Homo sapiens: one gene and its partner. The protein of the gene in region 1 interacts with the protein of each later gene in a pairwise test. Each region holds a gene or a part of one and is shown in the gene's direction. Other genes may lie near its edges.

Region 1 (5,470 bases):
AATTTTTGTATTTTTAGTAGAGACGGGGTTTCACCATCTTGGCCAGGCTGGTCTTGAACTCCTGACCTCGTGATCCACCCGACTCGGCCTCCTAAAGTGCTGGGATCACAGGCGTTAGCCACCGCGCCCAGCCCAACACCTTTTCATTTATCTGTACAGCACATATTTCCTGAGGGCATCCTGTATACTAGGTCCTGAGGGCATCCTGTATACTACAGATGGTTCCCAGCATTGGAGTTTTCAACTTTACATTGGTGCGAAAGCAGATCTGCATTCAGTGGAAACTGTATTTCTCTTACAATGCTGGGCAGTGTCAGCAAGCCACAGCTTCCAGTCAGCCACACATTTTCAACTTACAGTATTTTCAACCTATGATGGGTTTATCAGGATATAACTCCATCACAAGTCAAGGAGCATCTGTAAACAGTAAACAGAAACCCAGGCACCGTGTTTGTGCTTAGGGAGCTTGCGATCTAGTAGGGGAAGATTGTCAATAAAACAATCACAAATATATTGGCTGGGTGCGGTGTCTCACGCCTGTAATCCTAGCGCTTTGGGAGGCCAAGGCGGTTGGATCGCTTGAGGTTAGGAGTTCGAGAGCAGCCTGGCCAACATGGTGAAACCCTGTCTCCACTAAAAATAAAAATTAGCCGGGTGTGGTGGCAAGCGCCAGTAATCCCAGCTACTTGGGAAGCTGAGGCAGGAGAATCGCTTGAACCTGGGAGGTGTAGGCTGTAGTGAGCCAAGATCGCACCACTGCACTCCAGCCTGGGTGACACAGTGAGACCCTGTCTCAAAAATAAAAAAAAAGCATATATATGTAAAGCAGATATATATATATGTGTGTGTGTGTGTGTGTGCGTGTGTATCTATATCTATCTATCTATCTAATTGCCACCGTGCCAAGTGATTCAAAGGAAGGTAGCTGATGTTATGAGAACATATAAACGGGTGGGGCGTGGGAGAAGGGGCTGAGAACACACTGGAGGGGAATGCAGAGACCACCTGGATGTCTGCTGCAATTAAACTGACAAAGTATGACAATTTGGGTTACAGCGGGAGCATGGCAGCTGGAGAAATGGACTGACTTGAGATGTCCCAGATGTTCAGATCTCCTTTTTCTCTCAGGGCACAGGCAAAAGGCAAACCCAAAGAGGTGACTTTGAGCCAGGAGGACCCCTTACTTTGATCTTAACAGAAACGGGGGTTTCCTCTGGTGCGTTATGTGTATCATTTATTGAACCACTACTATGTACTAGGACCGACCTTGTCACATTTAAAGTTCACAACTCTGGCCTGGCGCGGTGGCTCATGCCTGTAATCCCAGCACTTTGGGAGGCCGAGGCGGGCGGATCACGAAGTCAGGAGATCGAGACCATCCTGGCTAAGACGGTGAAACTCCGTCTCTACTAAAAATACAAAAAATTAGCCGGGCGTGGTGGCGAGAGCCTGTAGTCTCAGCTACTCAGGAGGCTGAGGCAGGAGAATCGCTTGAACCCAGGTTGCGGAGGTTACAGTGAGCCAAGATCGTGCCATTGCACTCCAGCCTAGGCGACAGAGTGAGACTCCGTCTCAAAAACAAAACAAAACAAAAAAAAAAGAAAAAAAAAGTTCACAACTCTGAGGTAGGTGTAATTATCCCCATTTCATGATGAGTCTCATAAAGTTTAGGTGATGTGCCCAGAATCACACAGGGTTGGAATCAGGATTAGGGCCCTGATCGGGCTGCATTCAAAGACCAGTTTGCTTCAATACATCATACTACGGTCCAAGACTTCTGCTATCCTGAACCCACTGTTCCTTCCTCTAGTCTAGTTTTCAAATTCGCAGGGACAAATATGGCCCTGAAGGCTCCATGAGCAGACGAGAAGGCTGGACTTCGCAACTGGGTCACCTTAGATCCGGAACTAGAGAATGACACCGTTGTTTCCGGGAGGAAAAAGAAAAAGCGCTTGACCCGGAAGCTGCGTGTCCCATCCCCGCGCCTGCTTCTCTGACTGGGGTGAGGCCGCAGCGGACTGCCCTTTCCCAAGATGGCGTCGAAGATAGGTTCGAGACGGTGGATGTTGCAGCTGATCATGCAGTTGGGTTCGGTGCTGCTCACACGCTGCCCCTTTTGGGGCTGCTTCAGCCAGCTCATGCTGTACGCTGAGAGGGCTGAGGCACGCCGGTGAGCAGGCCTACGCAGCCGCTAAACGCGGCAGGGGGCGGTGATGTGGGCAAGAAATTGGGGGCTAGAAGTCGGGACCCTTGAACTGGGAGGAATTGGGACCTCCCTGGGAGGGGTTCTGGTCTGGGTGTCGGACCAAATCTGGTAGGGCGGTCCTGCCCATGGGAGGGGAGTCTGGTTTGGGGGAGCAGTGGAGCCTGTGGGAACTCAAGGGGTCTCAAGCTTCTTCCCCCACCGCTTCATTCTGTCCTCGTTGCTTCCCCACTCCCGGCTCGCAGGAAGCCCGACATCCCAGTGCCTTACCTGTATTTCGACATGGGGGCAGCCGTGCTGTGCGCTAGTTTCATGTCCTTTGGCGTGAAGCGGCGCTGGTTCGCGCTGGGGGCCGCACTCCAATTGGCCATTAGCACCTACGCCGCCTACATCGGGGGCTACGTCCACTACGGGGACTGGCTGAAGGTGAGCGCCTCGGCCCCAAAAGGGTCTTCCCTCTGGGTGACGGGGAATCAGAGGCCAATGCCCAGGGCTGTTGGTGGGCGATGAATGGTGCTGGCCAGCTGCACAGTGTGAAGCCTGGGAGGTTCGAACCCCTTGGCTTATGGAGATTACAGAGCGCAGAAATGGATCTTAGAGACCACACAAACTTCCTCTTCAAAGTGTGGAAACTGAGGTCTAGAGATGGGAAACAGACTTTCCCAAAGCCACAATACAGGATACTGGTGGGACCAGAACCCCGGTCACCTGGTTCCCAGAATCTTTTAAACTGTTAGTTTAGTAATCTCAGACTCATGGGGTACAAAGGACCTTGGAGAGTACCTAGTTTTCATAAAATAAATTTTATGAAAATGTAATTACTGTTAGTATAGCATTTAAGCCAGAACCTGTGCCAGGCCCTGCAGGCTGGAGATAAGGTTGGACAAAGGCACTGTCCTTGAGGAAGAGACTGTCAGACCCTTAGGGGAGGAAGATGTGTGAACAGCTACAGGGCAGCAAGATCAATGTTTTTGTGGCATAGATCCCATGCCATGTAGAATAAAGAACACCAAGATTAGAGTCTACAGATCTGAGAGTGGGGAAGGGAGAAACACATTGTGTCTGGGTTCTGCCACTTACTGGCAGGTAGGACCTGCCAGTTTTCTTTTTTGTTGTTGTTTTTTGAAACAGAGTCTCTCTCCGTCGCCCAGGCTGGAGTGCAGTGACGCTGTCTCAACTCACTGCAACCTCCGCCTTCCAGGTTCAAACGATTCTCCTGCCTCAGTCTCCCAAGTAGTTGGGATTACAGGCGCCCTTCCCCACGCCCGACTAATTTTTGTATTTTCAGTAGACAGGGTTTCCTCATGTTGGCCAGGCTAGTCTCAAACTCCTGACCTCAGGGTGATCCACCTGCCTCGGCCTCCCAAAGTGCTGGGATTACAGGCGTGAGCCACTGCGCCTGGCCAGACCTGACAGTTTTCTTAACCCTCTGGGCCTCAGTTTCTACTTCTATATATATATAAAAAGAATGATCTGTCTCTGTTGCACCTGCCCACCAAGCTTGGAAATGTAAGAGGGTTCATCAGATGGAATGGGATGTGTAGAGAGGGGTGGTTCTACACTCTGGGAAGCCAGGAGAGATGTGGCGGCTGCAGTTCTTGACTGGGGTCCCCTTACCCCGGCCTAGGTCCGTATGTACTCGCGCACAGTTGCCATCATCGGCGGCTTTCTTGTGTTGGCCAGCGGTGCTGGGGAGCTGTACCGCCGGAAACCTCGCAGCCGCTCCCTGCAGTCCACCGGCCAGGTGTTCCTGGGTATCTACCTCATCTGTGTGGTATGTTGGGGGACTGTTGGTTGGAGGTGCCTGGCTGGGAGTGAACTGTGAGTCTAGGCATGGCAGAACCCCAGGAAGGTAGACACAGAACGAGGCCCTGAGTGCAGTTCCTGATGGCCCAGTTCCCTGGGAATTGCCCTGGCCAGCTTCTAGGCCTCAGGGGCCCTCCAAATGCCTGTTGAGAGGCCCTTCCTCCAACAGTGTTGCCACGAGGTAGACTGGCCATTAAATTTCAACCCTGAGAGCCAGGAGAACAAGATGGGGTGATTCTCTCATGGCTCCAGCCCCCAAAGGACTAGAAGGGGATAAAGGAGAGGTTTGGTGGGGGTCAGGCCCCAGCTGGGACTCTGCCCCCTAGAGCTGATGAGAGCTCTAGGGTAGCCACTTATGGTTCTCCCTGGTGCTAGGGGAGGCCAGGGTGACTGGAGACATGGACAGGCGCCAGGCCATTAGGTCTTATCTTAATTACCGAGTATATCTCTGTACAGCTCTCTGTGTGGGCTCCCATATTCAGAGGTGGGAGCTCTAGTCTGACTGTGGAAATACACTTCCTTCATAGCCCCTAGGGTGAGGGGAGACATGGGCCCTAATCTCCTGGGGCTCCATAGTCCGAGGGGGAGACAAAGGCCCTACTTTCAGAGGTTCCCCAGTCCAAGAGGGGAGTCAGAAGCCCATCTGCAGGGACTCATTTGCAGGTGCCATCTCAGGGGTGGTTTACCCCAGACAGGCTTCTGAGCCTGTTGGAGAGTCTTAGAGGATGTTATGTCTCCAGGCCTACTCACTGCAGCACAGCAAGGAGGACCGGCTGGCGTATCTGAACCATCTCCCAGGAGGGGAGCTGATGATCCAGCTGTTCTTCGTGCTGTATGGCATCCTGGCCCTGGCCTTTCTGTCAGGCTACTACGTGACCCTCGCTGCCCAGATCCTGGCTGTACTGCTGCCCCCTGTCATGCTGCTCATTGATGGCAATGTTGCTTACTGGCACAACACGCGGCGTGTTGAGTTCTGGAACCAGATGAAGCTCCTTGGAGAGAGTGTGGGCATCTTCGGAACTGCTGTCATCCTGGCCACTGATGGCTGAGTTTTATGGCAAGAGGCTGAGATGGGCACAGGGAGCCACTGAGGGTCACCCTGCCTTCCTCCTTGCTGGCCCAGCTGCTGTTTATTTATGCTTTTTGGTCTGTTTGTTTGATCTTTTGCTTTTTTAAAATTGTTTTTTGCAGTTAAGAGGCAGCTCATTTGTCCAAATTTCTGGGCTCAGCGCTTGGGAGGGCAGGAGCCCTGGCACTAATGCTGTACAGGTTTTTTTCCTGTTAGGAGAGCTGAGGCCAGCTGCCCACTGAGTCTCCTGTCCCTGAGAAGGGAGTATGGCAGGGCTGGGATGCGGCTACTGAGAGTGGGAGAGTGGGAGACAGAGGAAGGAAGATGGAGATTGGAAGTGAGCAAATGTGAAAAATTCCTCTTTGAACCTGGCAGATGCAGCTAGGCTCTGC
Region 2 (3,500 bases), on another chromosome or scaffold:
TGGATGCCCGGTTATTCTGGCACCATTCGTTGAAAAGACTATCTCTGCTACATCGTATTGTCTTTGTTCCTTTATCAAAGATCAGTTGGGTCTATTTCTGGGTTCATTATTCTGTTCCATTGATCTATTTGTCTATTCTTTGTCCAAAACACATTGTCTTAATTATTGTAGCTTTACAGTAATTTTTTTTTTTTTTTGAGACAGAGTCTTGCTCTGTCACCCAGGCTACAGTGCAGTGGCGCAATCTCGGCTCACTGCAACCTCCACCTCCCAAGTTCAAGCGATTCTCCTGCCTCAGCCTCCCGAGTAGCTGGGATTACAGGGGCCCGCCACCACATCTGGCTAATTTTTGTATTTTTAGTAGAGATGGGGTTTCACCATCTTGGCCAGGCTGGTCTCGAACTCCTGAACTTGTGATCCACCAGACCCTACCTCCCAAAGTGCTGGGATTACAGGTGTGAGCCACCATGCCTGGCCGCTTTACAGTAATTCTTCAAGTCGGGTAGTGTCAGTCCTCTGACTTTGTTCTTTTCCTTCAGTATTTTGTCACCTATTTTGGGTTTATTTTATTTTATTTTATTTTTAGACAGAGTCTCACTCTGTCTCCAGGCTGGAGTGCAGTGACGTAATCTTGGCTCACTGCAACCTCCGCCTCCTGGGTTCAAGTGATTCTCCTGCCTCAGCTTCCCAAGTAGCTGGGACAACAGGTGCCCACCACCACGCCCAGCTAATTTTTTGTATTTTTAGTAGAGATGGGGTTTCACCATGTTGGCCAGGATGGTCTCGATCTCTTGACCTCATGATCCACCCACCTCAGCCTCCCGAAGTGCTGGGATTACAGGCGCGAGCCACTACGCCCTGCGGGTCTTTTGCTTCTCTATATAAACTAACTATACAATTAGTTTGTTGATATTCACAACTGATTTTGATTGGGATTGTTTGAATCTATAGTGAGTCCTCTTATCCATAAACATGGAATATCTATCTATCTATTTATTTTATATTTATTTATAAATTTATTTATTTATTTATTAAGATGGAGTCTTGCTCTGTCACCCAGGCTGGAGTACAGTGGCACAATCTCAGCTCACTGCAAACTCCGCTTCCCAGGTTGAAGCAATTCTCCTGCCTCAGCCTCCTGAGTAGCTGGGATTACAGGTGCGTGCCACCATGCCCAGCTAATTTTTGTATTTTTAGTAGTGACAGGGTTTCACCATGTTGACCAGGCTGGTCTCGAACTCCTGACCTCAAGTGATCCACCCGCCTCAGCCTCCCAAAGTGCTGAGATTACAGACGTGAGCCACCGCGCTTGTCCCCTTCATTTATTTAGTTCCTTGATTTATTTAATCAGTTTTGTAGTTTTCCTCATAATAGATATTGTACATATTTTGTTAGATTTATACATAGGCATTTCACTTTTTTAGGTGCTAATGTAAATGGTAGTGTTTTAAGTTTCAGATTCTACTTGTTCAGTGCTGTTTCATAGGAAAGTGATTGCATTTTATGTATTAACCTTGTATCCTGCAACCTTGCTATAATTGCTTATTAGTTCCAGCAGATTTTTGGTCAGTTCATTTAGATTTTCTACATAGACAATCATGTCATCTGCAAACAGAGATAGTTTTATTTCTTCACTCCCAATCTGTAGTCCCTTCATTTCCTTTTTCTGAAGGAACTACATTGCATTTACTAGGACTTCCTAGCAAAGACTGGGAAACTGCTAAGACTTGTTCATACTGAATGCAAATTCAATGTATGAAGCAGTGGTGACAGGAGACATCCTTGCCTGTTTCTAATCTTAGTGGGAGTGCTTCTACTTTCTTATCATTAAGTATGATGTTAGTTATAGGCTTTTTGTAGATATTCTTTATCAAATTGAGGAAATTATCTAGTGTACTGAGAGTTTTTATCATGAATGGGTGTTGAATTTTGCCAAATACTTTTTCTACATCTATTAATATGATCATGTGATTTTTCTTTTTTAGTCAGTTGGTGTGATTAATTACATTAATTGATTTTCTTTTGTTTTTATTTTATTCTCTTTTTTTTTTTTTGAAATGGAGTTTGGATCTTGTTGCCCAGGCTGGAGTGCAATAGTTGATCTCAGTTCACTGCAACCTCCACCTCCCAGGTTCAAGTGATTCCCCTGCCTCAGCCTCCCGAGCAGCTGAGATTACAGGCGGGTGTCACCACGCCCGACTAATTTTGTATTTTTAGTAGAGACAGGTTTCTCCATGTTGGTCAGGCTTGTCTTGAACTCCCAACCTCAGGTGATCCACCCACCTCGGCCTCCCAAAGTGCTAGGGTTAAAGGCGTGAGCCACTGCACCTAGCATTAATTGATTTTCAAATGTTGAACCAGTCCTGCATACCTGGACTAAACCCCAGTTGGTGTGGTGTATAATTCTTTTTTTTTTTTTTTTTTGAGACGGAGTTTCACTCTTGTTGCCTAAGCTGGAGTGCAATGGCATGATCTCGGCTCACCGCAACCTCTGCCTCCCGGGTTCAAGCAATTATCCTGCCTCAAGGTCCGGAGTAGCTGGGATTATACGCATGTGCCACCATGCCCGGCTAATTTTTATATTTTTAGTAGAGACGGGGTTTCTCCATGTTGGTCAGGCTGGTCTCGAACTCCTGACAGGTGATCTGCCCACCTCGGCCTCCCAAAGTGTGGGATTACAGGCGTGAGCCACCGTGCCTGACCCCATCCATTTACTTTTAATCCGTATGTGTCTTTTTTTGTTTGATACAAGGTCTTACTCTATCACCCATCACCCAGGCTGGAGTGCAGTGGCACCATCTTGGCTCACTGCAGCCTGAAATGCCTTGGCACAAGCAATCCTCCCACTTCAGCCTCCCAAGCAGCTAGGACTACAGGCACAAACCACCACACCCAGCTATTTTCTTATTCTTTGTAGAGATGGGGTCTCACTATATTGCCCAGGCTAGTCTTACTCCTGGCTTCAAGTGATTTTCCCATTTCAGCCTCCTAAAGTGCTGGGTTACAGGGGTGAGATACCACACTCAGCTGATCTATATGTATCTTTATGGTTAATGTGAGTTTCTTGTAGACAACATACAGTTGAGTCTTCTTTTTGTGTCCATCCTGACAATTTCTGCCTTTCAATTATGCACTTAGACCATTGACATTCAAAGTGATTACTGATATAGTTGGATCTACCACATTTGTTACTGTTTTTCTATTTGTTACCCTCATTCTTTGCTCCTATTTTTGTCTTCCACTTTTTTTTTTGCCTTTGGTGGTTTTAACTGAGCATTTTATATGTTCCTGTTTTATCTCCATTCATAGTGTATCAGTTGTACTTTTTTTTAACTTTTTTTAGTTATTGCCCTGGAGTTTGCAGTTTACAAGTACAACAAATCCAAGTGCACTTTCAAATAACACTATACCATTTCATGGATCGTGTGAGTACCTTATGATAACAAAACAATCCTAATTCCTCCATCCTGTTCCACGTATCATTGCTGGCATTCATTTTA

What was found. The genes of interacting proteins can lie anywhere in the genome.
Region 2: the proteins of TMEM101 (region 1) and NINJ2 interact in binary tests that used the Homo sapiens proteins (3 or more experiments, as listed by UniProt).

Annotation. Positions count from the first base shown.
Region 1 is NC_000017.11:44,011,516-44,016,985, reverse strand, and holds the start of TMEM101 (transmembrane protein 101), read left to right. Parts: upstream 1-2,022; 5' UTR 2,023-2,033; coding exon 2,034-2,170; intron 2,171-2,448; coding exon 2,449-2,629; intron 2,630-3,830; coding exon 3,831-3,977; intron 3,978-4,749; coding exon 4,750-5,058; 3' UTR 5,059-5,470. UniProt on the Homo sapiens protein: May activate NF-kappa-B signaling pathways.
Region 2 is NC_000012.12:653,446-656,945, reverse strand, and holds part of NINJ2 (ninjurin-2), read left to right. Parts: intron 1-3,500. UniProt on the Homo sapiens protein: Its role in unclear. In contrast to NINJ1 paralog, does not mediate plasma membrane rupture (cytolysis) downstream of necroptotic and pyroptotic programmed cell death.